Linked DNA regions of Homo sapiens. The protein of the gene in region 1 purifies or fractionates together with the protein of each later gene. This does not show direct contact. Each region holds a gene or a part of one and is shown in the gene's direction. Other genes may lie near its edges.

Region 1 (6,000 bases):
GGTTTTTTTCTTTTTTGCCTTTATAAGAATGAAACTTCCAAAAGCAATGGACTTAATAATGACTGCTAAGTAGTATTCCATTCTCTTACATAACACTAATTGAGAGAAAATGACATTGTTTCCAAATAAGAGCCATTATAAATAAAGCTTGTCTTTGTATCTATGTACTTGCTTCACTTAATTGAAATTACCTTCTGCTTATAAAAAGCTACTCTCAAAAATGTAAAGTCAAGGCATAAACTGAAAGCATGCATTGTGAAAGTGCATATGCATTAAAGGACTTGTATCCAGGGTATAAAAGGAACTATGAAAAAACAGTAATAATAAAACGAACAACCAAAGAGAAAATTTTCACGGACATTTTACCAAAACAACAAAAAATAGTGATAGCAAGAAAACATATAAAATGTTTAAAATGATTAGTTGTTAGGGAAATTCAAATTAAAACCACAATGAGAAATAATGGCACATCTATCAGACTAGCTAAAAAATGTAAAAGAAAGAAAATGCCAAGTGCTGGTAATGATTTAGAGCAACGGGAACTCCCAGACATTGTTGTGTTGACACAAAACACCGTTTTAAAATGTTGTCAAAGTTTGTCAGTCTCTTAAATAGCTTTTACTTACCTTATGATCCAATAGACTTCCAGTTATTACCCAAGTGAAATTTTAAAAATATGTAGATACAAAGACAAGCTTTATTTATAATGGCTCTTATTTGGAAACAATGTCATTTTCTCTCAATTAGTTTTACATAATGGAATGGACTACTACTTAGTAGTCCATTAGTCCATTGCTTTTGGAAGTTTCTTTTTTATAAAGGCAAAAAAACCTCACAAAAAACAAAGTGATAAAAGAACAACATGGTTGAATTTCAAAACATCATAGTAAAGATGAAGGCCTGATTTGAAAGGCTATAAGCTGTATGATTTCACTTAGATCATACTCTAAAAAGGGGAAAAGAATTACAGAAATCACATCTGTGGTTTCCCAGTGGTTGTCAGGGACTAGAGGAAGGAGAGGAATTAAATATAAAGAAATATAATGGAATCTATGAGGCTAAATGAAATATTCTGTCTTAATTGTGGTAGTTGTTACAAGACTGTATGTGTTGTCAAAGCTCATCAAACTGTACCCTTAAGAATGAAAGTTTTTCCATTGGTAAACTAGTTCAACCATTATGGAAGTCGGTGTGGCAATTCCTCAGGGATCTAGAACTAGAAATACCATTTGACCCAGCCATCCCATTACTGGGTATATACCCAAAGGATTATAAATCATGCTGTTATAAAGACACATGCACACGTATGTTTATTACGGCACTATTCACAACAGCAAAGACTTGTAACCAACCCAAATGTCCAACAATGATAGACTGGATTAAGAAAATGTGTCACATATACACCATGGAATACTATGCAGCCATAAAAAAGGATGAGTTCATGTCCTTTGTAGGGACATGGATGAAGCTGGAAACTATCATTCTCAGCAAACTATCGCAAGGACAAAAAACCAAACACTGCATGTTCTCACTCCTAGGTGGGAATTGAACAATGAGAACACATGGACACAGGAAGGGGAACATCACACACCGGGGACTGTTGTGGGGTTGGGGAGAGGGGAGGGATAGCATTAGGAGATATACCTAATGCTAAATGACGAGTTAATGGGTGCAGCACACCAACATGGCACATGTATACATATGTAACAAACCTGCACGTTGTGCACATGTACCCTAAAACTTAAAGTATAATAATAATTTAAAAAAAGAAAAAAAATGAAAGTTTTTTGTAGGAAAGCTATACCACAATGGCTTTAAGAAATTAATGGTTTCTAAGGCCGTATTGTCCCCATTTAAACATTCATGAATTAAAGTATTTTTATTCATTGTTCTTTCTGCTTCTTCCTGAATAAACTCCTTTCAAAACTTTAAATTAAAACTTCCAGTTCATTCTACTTTTTCAGTCTTTGCTTTTTTAAGGTTTGATAACATCAATCTCTTCTTTTTTCATAGTATTATCTTCTCTCCTTGATTCTAACAAAATTCATGAATTGAGAATATATTGTTTTTCCTCCATCTCTTTCAATTCACAGTTGAGTTTCTCCAGTAAAAATTATTTCACATACTTTCATTCCTTAAGTTATGTATTCTTACATACATAAGCAGATAAATATTGAAAATATAATAGGTAATAATCAATCATGGCATAGGTCTTGATGGCATTGTATTAGTCCATTCTCACACTGCTAATAAAGATGTACCTAAGATGGGGTAATTTATAAAGGAAAGAAGTTCAATTGAATCACAGTTAAGCATGGCTGGAGAGGCCTCAGGGAACTTACAATCATGGCAGAAGGGGAAGCAAACATATTCTTCTTCACATGGCAGCAGCAAGGAGAAGTAGAATGAGCAACAGAGTGAAAAGTCCCTTATAAAACCATCAGATCTCATGGGAACTCACTCACTATCACAAAAGAACAGCATTAGGGTAACCACTCCCATGATTCAATTACCTCCCATGGTGTCCCTCCTATGACATGTGAGGATTATGGAAACTACAATTCAAGATGAGATTTGGGTAGGGACACAGCCAAACCATATCAGACATGATGGTGAGATCTTTAAAAGTCAACTTTTTAACAAATTTCTTGCATTATGTTAGAGGCCTCCCTTTAGATGCTGATGTCTCCTACGTGCTTTGAAGATTGGAGGATTAGATTCACTATGAGATATACATACACACACGCTACATATACACATACACGTAAACATACACACATATATATACACATATAAGCTAAAATGGAGCATGATAGGAAATAGCGAGCTAGGTATTAGTTCTTTATGTTGAAGATTGTGTTCAAGTTTATTCCTCTACTTACCAACAGTTTATCTTTGGGGAAGTTGTTTAACAGATTAAAGCCTTACTTTTTTCATCTATAAAATGTGCGAATAATAATGTCAACCTGAAAGACTGGTTGAGAGAAGTAATTGAGAATTTAAACAAAATAATTAACATAGCAATTGCTGCATTATGAGTTCCCTATGCAAATAGACTCTCTTTGCATTTGAATACCCAATGTAGTATATTTTACGTTGTCTTCTTTTTGAATTTAGATCTAGAAAATCTATAGCTTCATGTCTTTGCAGGATAAGAATCACAAATAGTAACGGCAAAAACCAACACAATTTCAAAATCATAAATATATAATAATTTTTAAATCTATTGTGCTATTTGCTCAGGTTATAGGATTTCTTTAAAAATCATACAATAGATATTTATTAACTACCCTTTCTCACTACCTTTATACAGGAAAATAGCTGAATTTTAAGTCACACCGAAAAAAAGAGGGGTGCACCCACATACTAAAATGGCACAGGGGGAGAACGATAGTTTAGTCACGCACTTAGAATAAGCTAAAAATACAGACACAGAGAGAGTCAGTGTAGATAGACAATTATTTTCCAGAGGTCACAAACCACTTTATGATGTAAGACTTTCATAATGTCTGATTCCATACATCTCTATGTGATCATATTATATTTAATATTGTTTTGAGACAGAGCTCCTGCCTGTAGAGAATTGACTCTGCAATTAATAGCTATAATCTACTCCCCATGGTTACCCTGTCTTCTTGGAGAAAAACAAAATACAAGTGCAGTAACAAGTATTTAATCATAAGGCATCTTAAGATTTTACCAATAGATAATTCAATTTTCCACTGCATTTTTTAAATTAAATTTTCTTCTTTTATTTTTAAGCTCCAACTAAGAACCTCTGATAAAAAAAAAATAATAGTTACTTACTTAGGTAAGTAGCCATCTGGGGAGGAAGTTTTAAAGATTTGGTAATGTTATTAAGTAAGGTGGATAGGTACCCTGTCGGCTGCTTCTTGGAATTAACTTGATAATGGACATTGTAGTATAACAATCATTTGGTTTACTTTTAAAACATCACTAAATTATTTTTAAGGATACAATAGATGTGAAAATATTGATTATTTGAAATGGTCACTCTTTTTGCTGCTTAGGGCTACACATAAGCCATTCTCAAGAGATAAAGTATGAATTTTGGAGTTGAAGAATGTACAGAGTGATTTTGAGAAAATTAAAAAAGAATGCATTGAGTTAAATTCACATACCTGCTCTGAGAATGGGAGAAATTTTAGCAAGAATATTTTTATTATTTTACATTTTGGATGTGGGCTAGTATAGAAACAATAGAACAAAGTATTTGTATTCACAGAAATAGAGTATGTGGACTTCAGCCAGTGATTTGAGAAGCCTACAACTCCAATTCAATACAATCAATTGTTTATTACATGTAAATGCTTACCCATGGGTCCTCTAATATTCCTCTTACTTCAGTAATTATGACATATTATTCTGGGTTTTTGTTTATTTATTTGCCATATGTGACTGTCCTATTAACACTTCTTTTTTTTTTTTTTTGTAAACTTTTAGAGAGGAAAATATGTGCAACTAATACAAAGTTTACACAAAATATATTTCTCATAAATGACCAGAAAAAATTATACCTCACTGACTGAGTTCGTCCTATTGGGATTAGCAGACACGCTGGAGCTACAGATTATCCTCTTTTTGTTTTTTCTTGTGATTTATACACTTACAGTACTGGGAAATCTCGGGATGATCCTCTTAATCAGGATCGATTCCCAGCTTCACACACCCATGTATTTCTTCCTGGCTAACCTGTCCTTTGTGGACGTTTGTAACTCAACTACCATCACCCCAAAGATGCTGGCAGATTTATTATCAGAGAAGAAAACCATCTCTTTTGCTGGCTGCTTCCTACAGATGTACTTCTTTATCTCCCTGGCGACAACCGAATGCATCCTCTTTGGGTTAATGGCCTATGACAGGTATGCGGCCATATGTCGCCCGCTGCTTTACTCCTTGATCATGTCCAGGACCGTCTACCTAAAAATGGCAGCCGGGGCTTTTGCTGCAGGGTTGCTGAACTTCATGGTCAACACAAGCCATGTCAGCAGCTTGTCATTCTGTGACTCCAATGTCATCCATCACTTCTTCTGTGACAGTCCCCCACTTTTCAAGCTCTCTTGTTCTGACACAATCCTGAAAGAAAGCATAAGTTCTATTTTGGCTGGTGTGAATATTGTGGGGACTCTGCTTGTCATCCTCTCCTCCTACTCCTACGTTCTCTTCTCCATTTTTTCTATGCATTCGGGGGAGGGGAGGCACAGAGCTTTCTCCACGTGTGCCTCTCACCTGACAGCCATAATTCTGTTCTATGCCACCTGCATCTATACTTACCTGAGACCTAGTTCCAGCTACTCCCTGAATCAGGACAAAGTGGCTTCTGTGTTCTACACAGTGGTGATTCCCATGTTGAATCCTCTGATCTACAGCCTCAGGAGTAAGGAAGTAAAGAAGGCTTTAGCGAATGTAATTAGCAGGAAAAGGACCTCTTCCTTTCTGTGATTGTTTGGCTAAAAATCTCAACTAAAGAGCATATTTTAGTTACTTTCAAAGTCTAGTTTATATCTACATTTTTTTATTAGAATATTTTCTCAGTAAACACATTCTGTTAATAGTTGTATCCAGTTAGGGATAAAGAAAGTTACCAAACTGATTCAAGATCATGGCATGTTGACTTTACTATGATTCTATATATCTTTGTTAGGTTCTCCAAAATAATGAATATTTTTAAATGAAATTTCATCTAGAAATCAAATGGAATATATGTTCACAGACCAAAGCCACAATGATACATGAAACTGGAAATATAAAATAATTTCTATTATCCATTCTTTTTTTCTTATGCATTATTTTTCACCATTTATGATTTTTAAGGGATTGTTAAATATCACATAGGTGAGAAATGCTATAAGTTTAATATATATTTCTCCTTTGTATTCACTGAACTACTTCTTGGGGGAATAAAATCAAATTTTAGGACTATAGTTTTAATAGGAATTCTAAACTCTGCTTTTTTTACCTCCTCTCTCTCTCTCTCTC
Region 2 (3,194 bases), on another chromosome or scaffold:
GTGCAGTGGCACGATCTCAGCTCACTGCAACCTCCGCCTCCTGGGCACGATCTCAGCTCACTGCAACCTCCGCCTCCTGGGTCCAAGCGATTCTCCTGCCCCAGCCTTCCAAGTAGCTAGGATTACAGGCGCCTACCACCATGCCTGCTTAATTTTTGTATTTTTAGTAGAGACAGGGTTCCACCATGTTGGCCAGGCTGGTCTCAAAACCCCTGACCTCAGGTGATCCACCTGCCTTGGCCTCCCAAAGTGCTAGGATTATAGGCGTGAGCCACTGTGCCCGGCTCAAAAGTTCATGCTTATTCTCTTCTGCAAGTCACAGAAAACCCATAGCCAAGCTACTAACATGGGATTTACATGGTTTTAAGAAAGCTGAAATTTTGTACCTTCAAAGCCTTTATCCAGTTTGTTTCTCCTTAACAATACCTTCTCGTTTTCTGCAGCCACACTTAAGGAGAGCTTCCATATCGTCTCCTCCTATGTGCTCCCTCATAACTTTCTTTTCTGGTTGTTACCCAGAGCAGTACTCCTGAAAGTGCCAGCCCACAATAAGAAGCTTGCACCTTGGGCTGGGCAAGGTGGCTCATGCCTGTAATCCCAGCACTTTGGGAGGCTGAGGCGGGAGGATTGCTTGAGCCTGAGATTGAGGCTAACCTGGGCAACACAGGGAGACCCCATCTTTACAGATTATTAGAAAAATTAGCCAGGTGTGGTAGTGCACACCTGTGGCCCCAGCTACTTGGGAGGCTGAGGTGGGAGGATCCCTGAGCCTGGGAGGTCAAGGCTGCAGTGAGCCATGATCACACCACTGCACTCCAGCCTGTGCAACAGAATGAGACCCTGTCTTTAAAAAAAAAAAAAAAAAAGGGCCAGGTGCGGTGGCTCACACCTGTAATCCCAGCACTTTGAGAGTCTGAGGCAGGTGTATCACTTGAGGTCAGGAGTTCGAGACCAGCCCGGTCAACATGACAAAACCCTGTCTCTAGTAAAAATAAAAAAATTATCTGGGCATGGTGGCAGGTGCCTGTGATCCCAGCTACTCTGGAGGCTGAGGCAGGAGAATCGCTTGAACCCAGGAAGCGGGGTTTGCAGTGAGCTGAGATCGCCCCACTGCACTCCAGCCTGGGCAACAGAGCAAGACTCCATCTCAAAAAAAAAAAAAAAAAGCCTACACCTTACACCAGATTATAGATCAACACACTGCTTCCCTTCATCAGGAAAGCCTTCCTTTAACAAAGTGTGCTTTTTTCACTCTGATTAAAGTTCTTTATCTCACTATGAACCAATCATAAACAGTTCCCGCACTGGCAGCCATCCACAGAGCACTGGTCTAGAAGCCCGTCCAGAAGCACACCCAAATGGTTAATGTTGCAGCCTGCGGTGTCAAGCATCACCTGTGTTGTTTCCCCTTCACAGCCCCGCTTCCCTCCTGTGCTGCTGAGGCCTGGTGAGGAGTATGACCACACCACCTGGTTCAAGTTTTCTGTGGCTTAAGGAAGTGTGAAGATATGATCCAGTCCAGGGCTAGGCTCAGCCACCTGTCTCCTGTCCAGAAAAAAGGTGAAGATTAAGAAGCTTTCAGAATGATTCTATGGATTAAAATCATACAAATGGTGGCTGTTCTGAGAATCAGTCTGGGTATTGATTTCCTTTTCCAGTGACTGGCTCCAGGCCATGTCTAATGACCAGCTCGATTCCCTGTGCAGTTCAGAGGGCAAGTGAACCCAACCAACAATGTCGTCATCTAAGCCCTGACCCTAGCCAGGGACTCCCATGCTGCTGTTGGCTCCATCTCTCCACACTGCCTCTTTCTTTTCAACTTTTTGCCCTTCCTTTCTTTAAAGCTATTCTCACATTGCTTTTATTTCCTCCTCCTTCACCTCCAACCACTGTCAGCAGCACTCTGGAGTTTTCAAATGTCACATTAGCCTCACCCTGCATGCTAGGAGATGGACCTGTCTCTATACAGCAGTAGATGATTGATAAGTGAGGAAACTGAGGCTTACAGAGGTTGAAGACCAACAAGCTAATAAATAAAAAGTTGAGGCCGGGCACGGTGGCTCACGCCTGTAATCCCAGCACTTTGGAAGGCCGAGGCAGGCGGATCACGAGGTCAGGAGATCGAGACCATCCTGGCTAACACGGTGAAACCCCGTCTCTACATAAAAAATTAGCTGGGTGTGGTAGCACGCACCTGTAGTCCCAGCTACTTGGGAGGCTGAAGCAGGAGAATCGCTTGAACCTGGGAGGTGGAGGTTGCAGTGAGCCGAGATCATGCCACTGCACTGGGCAACAGAGCAAAACTCGATCTCAAAAAAAAAAAAAAAAAAAAGGAAAAAAAAGCAGCTCTCTCTCTCGGGAGAGGGAGGGGACTTCCGAGAGGAAAAGGCCTGCAAGAGCCTTTGGGTTAACTGAGAAAGCACAGCCCGGCCAACGCTTGGGAAGAAAGACAGGCAAGCACTGGAAACAGGAGCTATTAGGGTGAGGAGAGAGCCTTGCCTTTCACAGCACAGTGAGGATGACATTGCACCAGGGACAGAGATTGTATGTGACAAGGCTGGGGCTCCTTCTTTCCTAGACAATCAAAGTATCAGTGATGGGTTTTGGTTGGTGATTTTGAAAAAAAAAAAAAAAAGTATGTTATACTAGTGTATGCTGTACTGAATTGAAATAAAACCAAAATCTGCATCTTCAGAAGACTTGTTCCTTTACTCAGCTTGAAATCTCTCAGGCGTGGACCTTTGGGAAATGGACCAAGAATATGGGTGTGTTCTGGATTCTACTTTGCCCTCCAGTGGGAGCCCTGGCATTTTCCTACCTAACAGTTAGGAAAGCTATCTCAGTGGAAGTAGCTTTCCACACCTCCTCTTTCTTTGTAACCGATAATAAACCAAAGATCTTGTTTATTTTTTAATTCACTTCAGCATGGATTTTTCTGAGCACCTGCTCTGTACACAGCCCTCTGCTGGGTCTGTGAAGGGATTCAGGTCAGGTGTGATGCTGCCCACAGCAGCCAGTCAGGTGAGGTACATGCTCAGTTGTCTTCTCACTGGTGAGGTTAACTTTGGTGACTTGAGCAAGATGCTGCCTGCAGATCTCTCCACTCTTATTAAAGTTACCAATATATACATTAGCCAAGAGGCCTCAGAGGTGAACTATTAAGCTGACTGCAACCTAGCTACCAATTTGATTAT
Region 3 (7,425 bases), on another chromosome or scaffold:
GATGCTGGTGAGGATGTGGCAAAAGGAGAACACTAGTGCATTGCTGGTGGGAACGTAAATTAGTACAGAAACTATGAAAAACAGTATGGAAGTTTCTCAAAAATCTAAAAATAGATCTACCACATGATCCAACAATCCCATTCCTGAGTATACATCCAAAAACGGAATTCAATAAATTTAAAAGGTATCTGCATGCCCATGTTTATTACAGTACTATTCACAATAGCCAAGATATGGAATCAATCTAAGTGTCCATCAACAGATGAATGGATTTTAAAAATGTGTCATCTACACAAAAACATGAAATCATGTAGTTTGAAGCACCATAGATGGAACTGGAGGTCATTATGTTAAGTGAAATGCCAGGCATAGAAAGACAAATAGCACATATTCTCACTCATAAGTGAGAGCTAAAAAAGTGGATCTCATGGCAGTAGAGAGTAGAATGATGGTTACCAGAGGCTGGGAAGGTTGGGGGTAAGGAGGATGAAAAAGGTTGCGTAATGGGTACAAAAATACAATTAGATAGAGGAAACAATTTCTAGTGTTCGATAGCACTAGAGGGTGACTATAGTTAACAATAATTTATCATATATTTCAAAATAGCTAGAAGGCAAGATGTGAAATGTTCCTAACACAAAGAAATAAACAATGTTTGAGGTGATGGATATCACAATTACCTTGGTTTTATCATTATACCTTGTACGCAAATATCAAAATACCCCATAAATATATGCTTATTATGTATGTATTAATTTAAAAAGGAAATAAAACCATAATATTGCTGAACATTACACAAAAGCAACAGAAAAGGGAATTCTCTGAAATTAGAAAAGTTTTCCCAAAACCTGTGAGAAAGCAAATAAGCATAGAATAAGAAAGTAAAAATCTGCTTTGCCATTCATCAGCTATGGGATAACAGGCATAAATAAAGCCAGCTGTGAAATTAACAGAAAATACTATTTCTCTCTGGAAGATGCTTTAAAATGTCTCAAACACACACACACACACACACACACACACACACACACACACACCCTTAGAGTAACTGATTTTTTACTCACACAATGCCCTTTTCTCTAAAATCATAGAACATTTATGACAATATCAAAAGATTGTCAAAAACTCTGCTGTTTAAATCCTATTATTAAGATTGAAATATCTCACTCTTGGCTAGAATATCTAAAGTCACATTGACACAGAGAAATAGTTTCTACTTCTGAGAGGCAGAACTTTGCAATTTCCAAAAAACAGAACCCTGGGTCCATCTTGTATTACGTTGGTGCAAAAGTAATTGCAGTTTTTGCCATTAGTAATAGTTTAGATGTAGTGTAGAATTCTTTACAAACAGCCTTGCTTTCTTTTGAGTCTATCAAAGCACTACTTCATTTCAATTCCTTCTAAACTCCATACTTCCCCAAATTCCTACAATAAATCTATCTCTTCCTCTGTTGGTGAGGTACCCCATGGTTCTTCTGGAATGTGGGCTCCCTCCTTGCAATGAGCCAGTAAACCTGATGATATGGTCTGCTCTGTGTCCCCACCCAAATCTCACTTCAAATTTTAATTCCCATGTGTGCAAGGAGAGACCTGGTGGGAGGTGATTAGATTATGGGGGCAGTTCCCCCATGCTATTCTTGTGATAATGAGGGAGTTCTCATGAGATCTGATGGTTTTAAAAGTGGCAGTTTTCCCACGATCTCACTTCTCTCCTGCCACCGTGTAAGATATGTCTTGCTTCTCCTTCACCTTCTGCTATGATTTAAGTTTCCTGAGGACTCCCCAGCCATGTGGAACTGTGAGTCAACTAAATCTCTTTCCTTTATAAATTACCCAGTCTCGGGTATTTCTTTATAGCAGTGTGAAAACAGACTAATATACCTGACTTTCTTGGAATACAGTTTTGTTCCTGATAAACTTAGGCTTATTGGGCTAAGAAGCCTGTCTCATATTAGTTCAGGAACACCAATTTCACATAAAAATGAGCAATAACTCACGCCTGTAATCCCAGCACTTTGGGAGGCCAAGGGGTGGATCACGAGGTCAGGAGATCGAGACCATCCTGGCTAACACGGTGAAACCCCGTCTCTACTAAAAATACAAAAAATTAGCCGGGCGTGGTGGCAGGTGCCTGTAGTTCCAGCTACTCGGGAGGCTGAGGCAGGAGAATGGCGTGAATCCGGGAGGCAGAACTTGCAGTGAGCCAAGATCCCGCCACTGCACTCCAACCTGGGCAACAGAGCAAGGCTCTGTCTCAAAAAAAAAAAAAAAAAAAAAAAAAAAAGAGCAACAAAAAAAGCATCAAGTTCAAATCCATGCAGTTATTATGTGAAGAGAATAAGGAATATAACATCATCATCAAAGATAATAAAAACATGCCTGAAAGATGCACTACAAAACAATTTATTATTTTGAAACTAGCTAAATGACATTAGAGAAATGATAAAAGATATGGAAGAACTTGATTCTGAATTAGAAAAACCTCAGAAATGAGGTGACAGAACTCAGGAGAATTAGTAATAAAGAATAAACTACAAGAAACACAAAAGCTAATAAATGCAACAGATTATGATTTGCTGTAAAGAAACCGAGTCAATCCTTAGATCAATGTTTCTGTAATAATTCTGATTGTCAGACACTTTCTCCAATTAATTATTAAGGAGGGGCTCATGAAAACACTAGTCTCACCAAATTGATATATCAATTGTTGATAACAGTTTGTACCTTTTGTATATTAGTTTTGCTGAATGTAAAATCTTTGGCCTACATATTTTTCCCTTAAGTTTCCTCAATATGTCATTCTACTTTCTTATGACATAAAGCCTCACTGTCAAAAAGCTGTGATCGCCTAGTTTTCTTTCCCATTTTACATATGTGACAAAACATTAAAATCTGTTAAATCTGGTTGCTTGTTACATGCCTGAAATAATTCACACCATATTTTATCAAATCTAACATGCCCTCAATTTTAAGATGCATCGTTTTCTGTATTTATTTTTTAAAAATTCATCCTCTATTCATGGATGTTAAAATATGAAGAAGCGTGGGTAATGGCAGGCCATTGTTTTGGCCTAGCCTTCTACACTAGGCCCCATCAGATCAAACCAGAATGGAGTTGCTTGTGCTAAGCACCATGTAATTAAAGTGGATTTTGAAAAAATGAGCCAGTTTTTTTTAAAAAAACAGGAGATTCTAGTTAACCTAGTGGGCATAATAAGGAAGTATGCTCTGTTTTAACCTTTACAAGGAAAGAAACTTTGAAATAATCTGATTTTTGTTCTGTTTCTGCTTTCTTCAATCTTTTTCATTATCTTCAGTCCTGTAGCATTATCTTAGTGCTAGAGCAGAGCCTTGAAAGAATAGAACACAGATCAAGAACATTTTAATGTGGAAAAGGTTCACAACTGGATTGAGGAACACGGATAATGCTATAGGTGAGCAACATAAAGCTTCCAGGTATTTTAAGATGTGCAATTTTGAAGAGAATAGAGGGCACGAAGGATAATACAGTTTTGCCTGGACCCTCATCTCCATATGAGAGGAAAAATTTCTAATTAAAAATATGATACATCACAGAAAATTACATAATACCCAAAGTATATGCTAATTTTAAAAATCCTGCAGATGTTTATTCAAATATACAGTGTTATTTAGTGAAAGACAAATCCTAATGTTATTGTGTCCAACTCATTTTTGCTTTCTAAGAAAGGTGACACGGAAGTAAATGAAAAAGAATTATATGAGAACTTTTTAGATATGTGTTCTGGTAATCTAACAGTGACTAGCTCTATAACCTTGACCAAGTCACTTGCACTGACCGGAAGTTCCTTTCCCTTACCCACAAATTTAAGGGACCAAACTGGATGATCTAACGACATCTATGGCACTAAAAGTCACATGATTCTATTAAATCTGAGGCAGCGCCTCACATGTAGTGGACTCCCAAAATTATTTATTAAATGTATAACATCTTTAAGTGGTATCCCCTCACTGACAATCTGGAGCTATTAGCAGCCTTCAGTTTATTTATAAAATAAAGCTGTTTCCTCTTCTTACCGTTAAGACTCTTTTAAGGATTTGCAACGCTATCCCATCATTTCGCGGGTTACTAGAGTCCTGCATGTTTGGCTGTAGAGCAAGGGTGACGCGTAACTTCTGGACTTTGGTTCCATCTACATCTGCCGGATGCGGATGCCAGTCGCAACAGTAACGCCCCCTTCGGCCACCTGCACCACAGCACGCCATGCGGCCACACCCAAACCGGAAACCAGGACGCCCCTAGGGTTGACGGGAAGGCGCTGCCGGGCTCCTAGCTTCCCCAGGCCCGCCCCCTCTGATGACGTCTCCGCCCGCCCCTTGACCCCCCCACGGTCCCGCCCCTTCCTACCTTCCAGTAGCCGGCGGCGGTGTCTCAGGCGGCAATGGAAGGATCCGAGCCTGTGGCCGCCCATCAGGGGGAAGAGGCGTCCTGTTCTTCCTGGGGGACTGGCAGGTGAGAGGACGAGAAGGGCGAAGGTGAGGGGTCGCGGGTGGGACCCAGGCTCCGGGTTTCTGCTTCTTTCTTTCCGGCGGGCTGGGGGCGCCCGAGAGGCCGCGGGGCCGAGCAGAGCCGGCCCTGGGAGGCGAGGGGCGCGCGCGGAGTGGGTGTGGCGACGTGGGCTAGGGCCTCTGCTGTTGCCGGCTTTCCTGAGGGAAAAGTCCCCTTTCCGCACCTTTGAGGGCTTTCTCAGTTCTGGCTGGGATTCGGGATCCTCCTTCCTCCAAGTCACCAGACTTGGGGGGCTCCGGTCGAGAGCGAGTTCTGGTCTCGGTCACTTGGCGTGAGCTTCCCCGACTGGTGCCAAGCACCTTTCCTCCTTTCCGTAAAAAGAAAGCTAGGAGCGCCACTGTGCACCTCCACTGAGATCCTCTTTTGAAAACTATTACCAGAAGGAACTTGGTAAGAATGAATCAGTAGCAATCTGGACACCCTGAGGCCTTTGTTGACTTCGGAAGAAGGAAAAAAAAAAAGCCAGGAAAAAAAAATACACAAGTTACCCATTCTTATTTCCCACTTGGTTTTGAAGTTCTTCAGGTCTTTCCCGCCCCTGTAAAATTAGGGGGAAAATATTTGTGCTAGGCCTTTACCAATTTCTTGGTTAGTAGTTCCTCTTTCAATCATCTCATAATTAATAAAGCAAGTGGTTACATTCTATCCACCACTGTCAGAATACACCATGCCAAAGATAGAATTGATGGATGTATTATTTTCAGCTGATGTGAGACTTTGTAAACCTGTAGCCTTTTCGCCAGTTTCAGACTGAAGGGATGCTTTCAGTTTCATGGTGTTGTCTGCCATTGCCAACACTGCCAGAGTGGAGGGATATTATGTAATATAACCCGCGCCTTATTTGAAGCGTTTTTGATTGTCTTATAGATCATATTATTTTTACATATTTTTGAAACATTCCAGTGAGGCACAACTTTCTGAAAAGGGCCAGTCACGCCATTAAGTGGCAGAGCTAGTTAGACTGCAGCTGTTCTCGTTTTTATTCAGATTTACCCACCAGGCCTATTGCCCCCGCCATGCAAGGAAAACAGCAAGTGAAAGTGTACTAGGGATAAAATGATAGGAAAGTAGATAATAAAAAACTTTGGCCGGGCGCAGTGGCTCAAACGCTTGCAATCCCAGCGCTTTGGGAGGTCGAAGCAGGCGGGTCGCTTGAGCTCAGGAGTTCTTAGACTAGCCTGGGCAACATGGCGAAACCGCGTCTCTACAAAATACAAAAAAATTAGCTGGGCGTAGGTGATGCACGCCTGTAGTCCCAGCTACTCGGGAGGCTAAGATGAGAGGATCGCTTGAGTCTAGAGAGATCGAGGCTGCAGTGAGCCGAGATCGTGCCACTGCACTCCAGTCTGGGTGACAGAGAGAGACCCTGTCTCAAAAAAAAAGAAAAGAAACAAATTTTGTTAATTTTTATATTTTGTTACAATGCCCAAACAGGGTATATTGTGTATGTGTGTGTTTTTTATTAGGTAGGTGATCTCTTAGAACACAGCTATCTTCTGATTTGCCTTGGTAATTGGAATCAGTTTTTTTAATAGCTATCCGTTTAATTAGCTAGAAGCTGGTATCATTTGATATGTGCCAGTGTTTGGTGAGATAAATGATAACATTTTAATTACCTTTGTTTACAAATTCTTTGGCTTATTTATCAATGCTAGGACTAGAAAGTTGGATTCCAAGCCTGAATTTGATGCCATCGCATTGTTTTTAGAATCTTTTAATTGACAACTAGAGCTTCTCAGAACTAGGAATGGCCTCCACTTCTGCCAGTATATTGATCTCAGCTCTCACAGTGGTTCAGCTCCAAATGCTCCAGACTGGTTCCCTGTACCTGGGAATTATCTCTGCTTGCCAGTGTTTAGTACAGATACGTTTTTTGAAGGCCATGCTGTGAAAATGGGACGAGCACTGCTATAAATAATATGTTACTATAATAAGTATACTTTGTCAGATTTGCATATTTAGATTAGTTTTTTTCCTTTAAAATTTATTCATTTAACAGGGTTTTTTTGTTTTGTTTTGTTTGTTTGTTTTTTGACAGAGTCTTGCTCTTGTCACCCAGGCTGGAGTACAGTGGTGGGATCTTGGCTCACTGCAGCCTCCTCCTCCCGGGTTCAAGCGATTCTCCCACCTCAGCCTCCCAAGTAGCTGGGAATACAGGCGCCTGCTACTACATCTGGCTAATTTTTGTATTTTTAGTAGAGACAGGGTTTCACCACGTTGGTCAGGCTGGTCTCGAACTCCTGACTTCAGGTGGTCCGCCTGCCTTGGCCTCCCAAAGTGCTGGGATTACAAGCATGAGCCACCGCGCCCATCCCATTTAACAGGTTTTTTTAAGTGTTTCCTTTATGTCTAATATCAGAAACAGTAGGCAGTATGTGTGGTAGTCAAGAGCTAGACTGCCTGGGTTCAGATCCTGGCAGTGCCATTTGCCTGCTCTGTGACTTTGGGCAAATTTTAAGTTAACCTCCCTCAGCCTCTTTTTTCCATCTGTTCGTTGGAGATAGCAATAGTGCTTGCCCACTGTTTGGACAAGGTTGTTGTAAGGGTTAACTGAATAAGTACATCTAAAGCACTTAAATATGTAGCACAGGGTTATCTATTATTATTAAATGCCTGGTACTGTTTTAGGTATTTGGAATACAGTAGTGAGTTTTTAACAGACCATACATTTTTTTGGTAGTAGTGGCAGACAGTTAACGGTAAGTGATTTGAAGAAACTGACAGGTTAATGAGTTAGGCAGCAACCTAAGGATAAGAGTAGCCATTTTATTGATAGGGTGATCAGGAATGAGGTGTGTGGTATTTGTGACACAATATTTTAATAGAGGCTTAAGTGACAAGAAGTCAGCTATTCCGAGATTTTAAGAAAGAACATT
Region 4 (7,042 bases), on another chromosome or scaffold:
ATTGGATCCTGGCGACCCAGGCGCTGCGCCTGCTTCGGTCCCCACAGCACCCACTCCCTTCCCAGCCCCAGAGCGCCCGAATGTGGTGCTCTGGACCGTGCCTCTGGGCCACACGGGCACTGCCACCACCGCGGCCGCCGCCTCTCACCCAACGCACTACGACGCCCTCATCCTCGTCACCCCTGGGGCCCCCACTGAGAAGGACTGGGCCCAGGTCCAGGCCTTGCTGCTACCAGATGCGCCTCTTGTCTGCGTGCGCACAGACGGCGAGGGCGAGGATCCGGAGTGTCTGGGAGAAGGCAAGATGGAGAATCCCAAGGGCGAGAGCTTAAAGAACGCAGGTGGAGGGGGATTGGAGAATGCACTCAGTAAGGGAAGGGAGAAATGTAGCGCTGGATCGCAGAAAGCAGGCAGCGGGGAAGGTCCTGGGAAAGCTGGCAGCGAGGGTTTGCAGCAGGTTGTCGGCATGAAGAAATCAGGTGGTGGCGACTCAGAGCGGGCCGCTGCGTTAAGCCCGGAGGACGAGACGTGGGAGGTGCTGGAGGAGGCGCCGCCGCCAGTGTTCCCCCTACGGCCTGGCGGACTCCCAGGGCTATGCGAATGGCTGCGGCGAGCGCTCCCCCCAGCCCAGGCAGGGGCACTGCTGCTGGCGTTGCCACCAGCATCTCCCAGCGCTGCCCGAACCAAGGCTGCGGCGTTGCGAGCCGGGGCGTGGAGGCCAGCTCTGCTGGCTAGTCTGGCGGCGGCGGCGGCACCACTCCCAGGGCTGGGCTGGGCATGCGACGTGGCACTTCTGCGGGGTCAGCTGGCGGAGTGGCGACGGGGCCTGGGGCTGGAACCCACGGCACTGGCTCGACGTGAGCGTGCCCTGGGCCTGGCTTCTGGAGAGCTGGCAGCGCGCGCTCATTTCCCAGGCCCGGTGACGCGCGCCGAGGTGGAAGCAAGACTGGGCGCCTGGGCGGGCGAGGGCACTGCTGGGGGCGCAGCACTGGGGGCTCTCTCCTTCCTGTGGCCTGCGGGTGGTGCAGCGGCGACAGGTGGCCTGGGCTACCGAGCGGCTCACGGCGTCCTGCTGCAGGCTCTCGATGAGATGCGGGCTGATGCTGAGGCTGTGCTGGCACCCCCTGAGCCTGCCCAGTGAGGAGTGGGAGGGGGCTTGGGAGTCCAGACTCTGACAGGGGATGCCTGGGCTTAATCCTGGGTGCTTGAAGGGGATGTGGACTCTTGACTTCCAGCTGGGATGTGTGACTTCTTATCACCTGGATTCAGAGAGTCTGGGGGACAGGAATCCTGATTTTTTTTTTTTTTTTTCTTTTTTTTGTGAGACGAAGTCTCTTGTTGCCCAGGCTGGAGTGCAATGGCGCGACCTCGGCTCACTGCAACCTCCGCCTCCCGGGTTCAAGCGATTCTCCTGCCTCAGCGTCCGGAGTAGCTGGGATTACAGGTGCCTGCCACCACACCTGGCTAATTTTTGTATTTTTAGTAGAGACGGGGTTTCACCATGTTGGCCAGGCTGGCCTCGAACTCCTGACCTCAGGCGATCGACCCGCTCCGGCCTCCCAAAGTGCTAGGATTACAGGCGTGAGCCACCGCCCCTGGCCAGGAATCCTGATACCTTTGGGAACCATGGTGAATGACATCTAGACCCTTCTGTCCTGAAGGGAGTTGGTGGCCCAGACTCTAGCAGGGACTATGTCTTTGTCTCCTAGGGAGTAGAAACTGGAGTTACTGGATGTTTAGTCCTCCAGGGAGGCTGGTAGAAGTCCTGTTTCCTAATTGGTGGGGAGGTGTCCATGACTGGGACCTGAACTCCAGTATAGGGGAGGGAGACCTGAGCGCCCCAGGGAGCTGGAACTCTTGGGCTTCAGAGCCTCAGAGGGAAACAGGGTCTACATTTCTCTGGGAGAAAAAGCCTGCACACAGGTCCCCAAGGAGCAGTGGGCTTTGAATCTTGATGGGGTGGCGGAGGCCCCTGGGGTCTGAGACTTCCGGGGTTCTAAGATGGCTGTGGACCTTGGTTCCTAAATATTGGGTAAGGGGAGGTCTGCATCTGGAGGAGGGATCGGGGGCTTGTGCGAGAAAGCTGGAGACTTCTTGATCTCTCCTGGGGAGTGGATGGGTTTCTATAATTGCCCTCCAAAAGCATGTAGGGAGGGTGGTCCCACAAAAATGAGGTGAGGTGGGTAAGAGGTCTGGGCATGGTGGGCTCTGGGAGTAGCCAGGGACCAGGAATGAGGTCTTTTGGGTGTGGAAGGGCAGTAAAGCATACCTCAGAGACAGCTCCTCCAAACCTTGTATTGGGATCCCGGCAACTGCCTCTGTGAGTGTGACTGGGAAGGGATATGACTGCCTTCATCTTCTAGGTGCTGAGCAATTCAGGTGATCTCTGGGGAGTCTGTTTCTCTGTCTCTTTTCTTTAGGAGTTTCTATCTTTTTTTGGCCTTTTTCTCCTGGTATTTAACCATAACCCTTTATGGCCTTGGTGTTTTGTGCACCTTCCTTTTCAGAAGAGCAGCTGTACTGCTGCACTGGTCCAAACACTTCTGTATGGACACCTCGGGTATCCCCAAGAGGCTCTGCTTTCTGATGTACATAGAGGGTGCTGCATTGAGCCAGGGGCCCACCAAATGGGTGGTCAGGCACTTGAGACCATGGGAATATGCCAGGAGTGAATGAAGCAAAGGCAGAAACCACAGTGCCTGGAATGTTCTAGGCTGCTAGCCACATGTGGGGGAAAAGTTGCAGGTTACAGAATTCTTCAGTGTCAAAAACAGAAAAGGAGGATCTGAGAATCCAAGCGATAGAATCCCTTTTGTCGTAGACAGAAAGAGCAAAGTCCAGAGAGGGCAGGCTTGAGGCCCAACAGCACACAGTAAGGCCCTGTGGGTCTGGCCCTTGCCTATTCTCATTCACTGCCCCTTCCCACTCCTGTCCAGCCTGATAGACTTTCCTTCTTTTTTTTTTTGAAATGGAGTCTCACCTTGTCACCCAGTCTGGAGTACAGGGATGTGATGACTGTAGCTGAGATGACAGGCATGTGCCACCACACCTGGCTAATTTTTGTAGTTTAGTAGAGAAGGGATTTCACCCTGTTGGTCAGGCTGGTCTCGAACTCCTGACCTCAGGTGATCCACCCGACTCAGACTCCCAAAGTGCTGGGATTACAGGTGTGAGCCATCATGGCCGCCTGACTCTTTCTGATGCCTGAGTGGCTACCTTGAGTCCTGCCTGGGGACCCATGCACCTGCTGTTCTCTTTCCTTCAAGGCTCTACTCACAACTTCCTGTTCTACTCTCAAACCTTCCTGTGACGGGCTCAGTCAGATCTCAGCTCACGTATCCCCTCAGAGAGGACTTCCCCTCCCTGACCACCCTATCTGAAGTAGCTCACATTCCCCCACTATTCATTTCGGCCAGTTGAGTTTCCTTGTAGCAATTATTACTGTCAAAAATGATCTTATTTATTTACCTGTTTATTGGCTTTTGACCCGTTGCCTGTCCTGTTCTCTGTTGTTTCCCCAGCATCTAGAACAATAGGTGCCTGACACAATAGGTGCTTCGTAAATATTTATTATTATTATTATTATTTTAGAGACAGGGTCTTGCTCTGTTGCCCCGGCTGGAATACAGTGGGATGATCATGGCTCACTGCCATCTCCAACTCCTGGGCTCAAACGATCCTCCCACCTCCGCCTACAGAGTAGCTGGGACTATAGGTACACAGCACCAAATTTTCTGTAGAGACGGGGGTCTTGCTTTGTAGCCCACACTAGTGTTGAACTCCTGGCCTCAAGTGATCCTCCTGCCTTGATGGGATTACAGGTGTGAGCCACCACACCCAGCCTAAATGTTTATTTCATTGGTCAGTGTCAGAACTAGGATTGGAATTTAGATTGTTAATCTCTTGCCACAAGATAGGAAAATGGAGCAAGATGAGGAGAAAAAAGCATTTAATGGGAGAGAACACCCTTGTCTGAGGTCAGGGACCTGGGAAGCAAGCACGACTTTGCCACTGTCACTGTGTGTTACTTGGACAGTGCCTTATTTTCCCATCTGTGAAATAAAAGAGCTGGATAAGAACCTTAGTTTTGAGATCCTGTCTCCCTTAAAAGCTGAAGACAAAGGTAACTGATCCAAGGGCAGACAAGGGATGGTACCATCATCTCCAGCTTGGACTCCCACTGCTGACAAAATTTGTCCCTTCAAAGTTGAGATAGCTACCATGGGGAAGAGCACTTAGTTCTATACTGAATGGCTCCAGGCATTTTCATGAAAGCTCTTTCAGCTTTGGGGAAGAATATTCATCCATATCTTTACCCCATCATATTAGTGTCTAAGCCCTGCAATCAGGCATGTCAGCCACGTGATGGAATGGGAGGGCTGCAGGGCAGCACTGTCCAGTAGAAACGAAATGCAAGCCACATATGTCATTTTAAGTTTTCTTTTTTTGAGATGGAGTTTCACTCCATCACCCAGGCTGGAGTGCAGTGGCACGATCTCGCCTCACTGCAACCTCCGCCTCCCAGGTTCATGTGATTCTCCTGCCTCAGCCTCCTGAGTAGCTGGGATTACAGGCATATGCCACCATGCCTGGCTAATTTTTGTATTTTTAGTAGAGATGGGGTTTCACCATGTTGATCAGGCTGGTCTGGAACTACTGACCTCAGGCCACCCGCCTTGGCCTCCCAAAGTGCTGGGATTACAGGCATGAGCCACCGCGCCCAGCTAATTTTTGTATTTTTATTTTATTTATTTATTTATTTTTTGGGAGACGGAGTCTTGCTCTGTCACCCAGGCTGGAGTGCAGTTGTGCGATCTTGGCTCACTGCAACCTCAGCCTCCCAAGTAGCTGGGATTACAGGCATGCACCATCATGCCCAGCTAATTTTTGTATTTTTAGTAGAGATGGGGTTTCACTGTGTTGGCCAGGCTGGTCTTGAACTCCTGACCTCAGGTGATCCACCGGCCTCAGCCTCCCAAAGTGCTGGGATTATAGGCGTGAGCCACTGCACCCGTCCTAATTTTTGTATTTTTAGTAGAGATGGGGTTTCACCATGTTGGCTAAGCTGGTCTGGAACTCATGGCCTCAAGTTATCTGCCCACCTCAGCCTCCCAAAGTGCTGAGTAAGCCAAGTTTTCTAATAGCCACATTAGACAAGTAAAAGGAAACAGGTTAAATTCATTTTAACATGTTTTACTTAACCCAATGTATCCAAAATAGCATTTCAACATGTCATCGGTTTTTTAGTTTTTTTTTTTTTTGAGATAGTGCTTCGCTTTGTTGCCCAGGCTGGAGTGCAGTGGCACAATCTCGGCTCACTGCAACCTCCACCTTCCAGGTTCAAGTGATTCTCCTGCCTCAGCCTCCCGAGTAGCTGGGATTACAGGCACCCGCCACCATGCCCACTAATTTTTGTATTTTTGGTTAGAGATGGGGTTTCGCCATGTTGGCCAGGCTAGTCTCAAACTCCTGACCTCAGGTGATCCACCCACCTCGGCCTCCCAAAGTGCTAGGATTACAGGCGTGAGGCACCGTGCCTGGCGTCATCGGTATTATTTAAATGAATTATGTTACGTTCTTTTGTGCTGTCTTCAAAATCTGTTATATATTTTACACTTACACCAAATCTCAATTACCATGGTACATTTTTATCTGAAATGCTTGACCTTTATTTTGATTTCATAAAATTCATAGTTGGAGAAGTAGATTCACATATCCAAGTTGTTCCAATTATATAATAGTTTTCCAAAAACTGAGATGGGTGTCCATTTTTTTTTTAAGTAAAGATGCAGGTCTGGTTATGTTGACCAAGTTGCTGGGTTGTTTTGTTTTGTTTTGAGACAGAGTCTCACTTTGTCACCCAGGCTGGAGTGCAGTGGCATGACCTCAGCTCACTGCAACCTCTGCCTCCCAGGTTCAACTGATTCTCTTGCATCATCCTCCTGAGTAGCTGGGACTACAGGTGTATGCCACCATGCCTGGCTAATTTTGGTATTTTTCTCAGAGACGGGGTTTCACCATGTTGGGCATGCTGGTCTTGAACTGCTGACCTCAGGTGATCCGCCCACCTCGGCCTCCCAAAGTGCTGGTATTACAGGCATGGGCCACCACACCTGGCCTCAGCTGTTCAATTAAAAGTAAATACAACTTAAAATTCTATGTTTCATTGGCAGTAGTGCAACATTAATACTGAGTAGCCACATGTGATTAGTGGCTATGGTATTGGACAGGGAAGGTACAGAATACTTCCATCAACATAGAAAATTCTATCAGTCTAGCTCTAGGGGCAGATAGTCCTTCCACTGACTTGGGCAAGTCACTCTACAAATGGCATCTACCTCACATGGTTATGGTGAGAATTCAGCGTATGTATGTACATGCAGGCACACAATATGCACACAGACACATAACATAGTACACCCTTTCCTGAAAAGCCTGACACATGGAGCTCAAACATGAGTGCCACCCACCCCTGGGCAGCACCAAGATGGCTCTAGTCTGGGTGCCTTTGTCTCACCCCCATGCCTTTGCTCGGAGTGTGCTCCTCATTTTTCTGCCACTTTGACCCTGTCTCTGATTTGGTCCTGTCTGACATCACTGCTATATGCTTTGCTCCTCTCAATTTCCTCTGCCCTCATGCCAGCAGGAGTCATGCCAGAGATCATATCTGAGAAAGCAAGACAATTTTGTGTGTGTGTCTGTGCCCATAGAGGAGTGCTGGTTGTGTTGATATAGTTGTAGATTGGTTGTGTTTACACAGTTGTATATATTGACACCCTTGAGTGTTATGACTTCTTTTGGGGGTGGTCGCCTTTTAAATCATAACTTTTAATGGGATTCCATTTTAGTCTTTGTGAAGACATAAGGTTGTTGGCAGGCATCTGTCCCTGGGAGCATCCAAGCAGAAAAGACTAAGACTCCCTTGTAGACAGATCACTGGCCGCCACTGAAGTGTGTCTGCATGGCACCACAGGGCTGGAAGACCCTTGAAGGCAGGAATTCAAGGAAATGTATGATGAATTTTGGCATTGCCATCAAAAGC

What was found.
Region 2: the proteins of OR5F1 (region 1) and GALM purify together in Homo sapiens (affinity purification with mass spectrometry; 2 studies listed by BioGRID and IntAct, with this or other methods). This does not show direct contact.
Region 3: the proteins of OR5F1 (region 1) and UBA6 purify together in Homo sapiens (affinity purification with mass spectrometry; 3 studies listed by BioGRID and IntAct, with this or other methods). This does not show direct contact.
Region 4: the proteins of OR5F1 (region 1) and IRGQ purify together in Homo sapiens (affinity purification with mass spectrometry; 2 studies listed by BioGRID and IntAct, with this or other methods). This does not show direct contact.

Annotation. Positions count from the first base shown.
Region 1 is NC_000011.10:55,993,144-55,999,143, reverse strand, and holds OR5F1 (olfactory receptor 5F1), read left to right. Parts: upstream 1-4,518; coding exon 4,519-5,463; downstream 5,464-6,000. UniProt on the Homo sapiens protein: Odorant receptor.
Region 2 is NC_000002.12:38,732,072-38,735,265, forward strand, and holds the end of GALM (galactose mutarotase), read left to right. Parts: intron 1-1,394; exon of another isoform or gene 1,395-1,416; coding exon 1,417-1,494; 3' UTR 1,495-2,694; downstream 2,695-3,194. UniProt on the Homo sapiens protein: Mutarotase that catalyzes the interconversion of beta-D-galactose and alpha-D-galactose during galactose metabolism.
Region 3 is NC_000004.12:67,698,116-67,705,540, reverse strand, and holds the start of UBA6 (ubiquitin-like modifier-activating enzyme 6), read left to right. Parts: upstream 1-4,385; 5' UTR 4,386-4,421; coding exon 4,422-4,492; intron 4,493-7,425. UniProt on the Homo sapiens protein: Activates ubiquitin by first adenylating its C-terminal glycine residue with ATP, and thereafter linking this residue to the side chain of a cysteine residue in E1, yielding a ubiquitin-E1 thioester and free AMP.
Region 4 is NC_000019.10:43,586,125-43,593,166, reverse strand, and holds part of IRGQ (immunity-related GTPase family Q protein), read left to right. Parts: coding exon 1-1,141; 3' UTR 1,142-7,042. UniProt on the Homo sapiens protein: Autophagy receptor that specifically promotes clearance of misfolded MHC class I molecules by targeting them to the lysosome for degradation.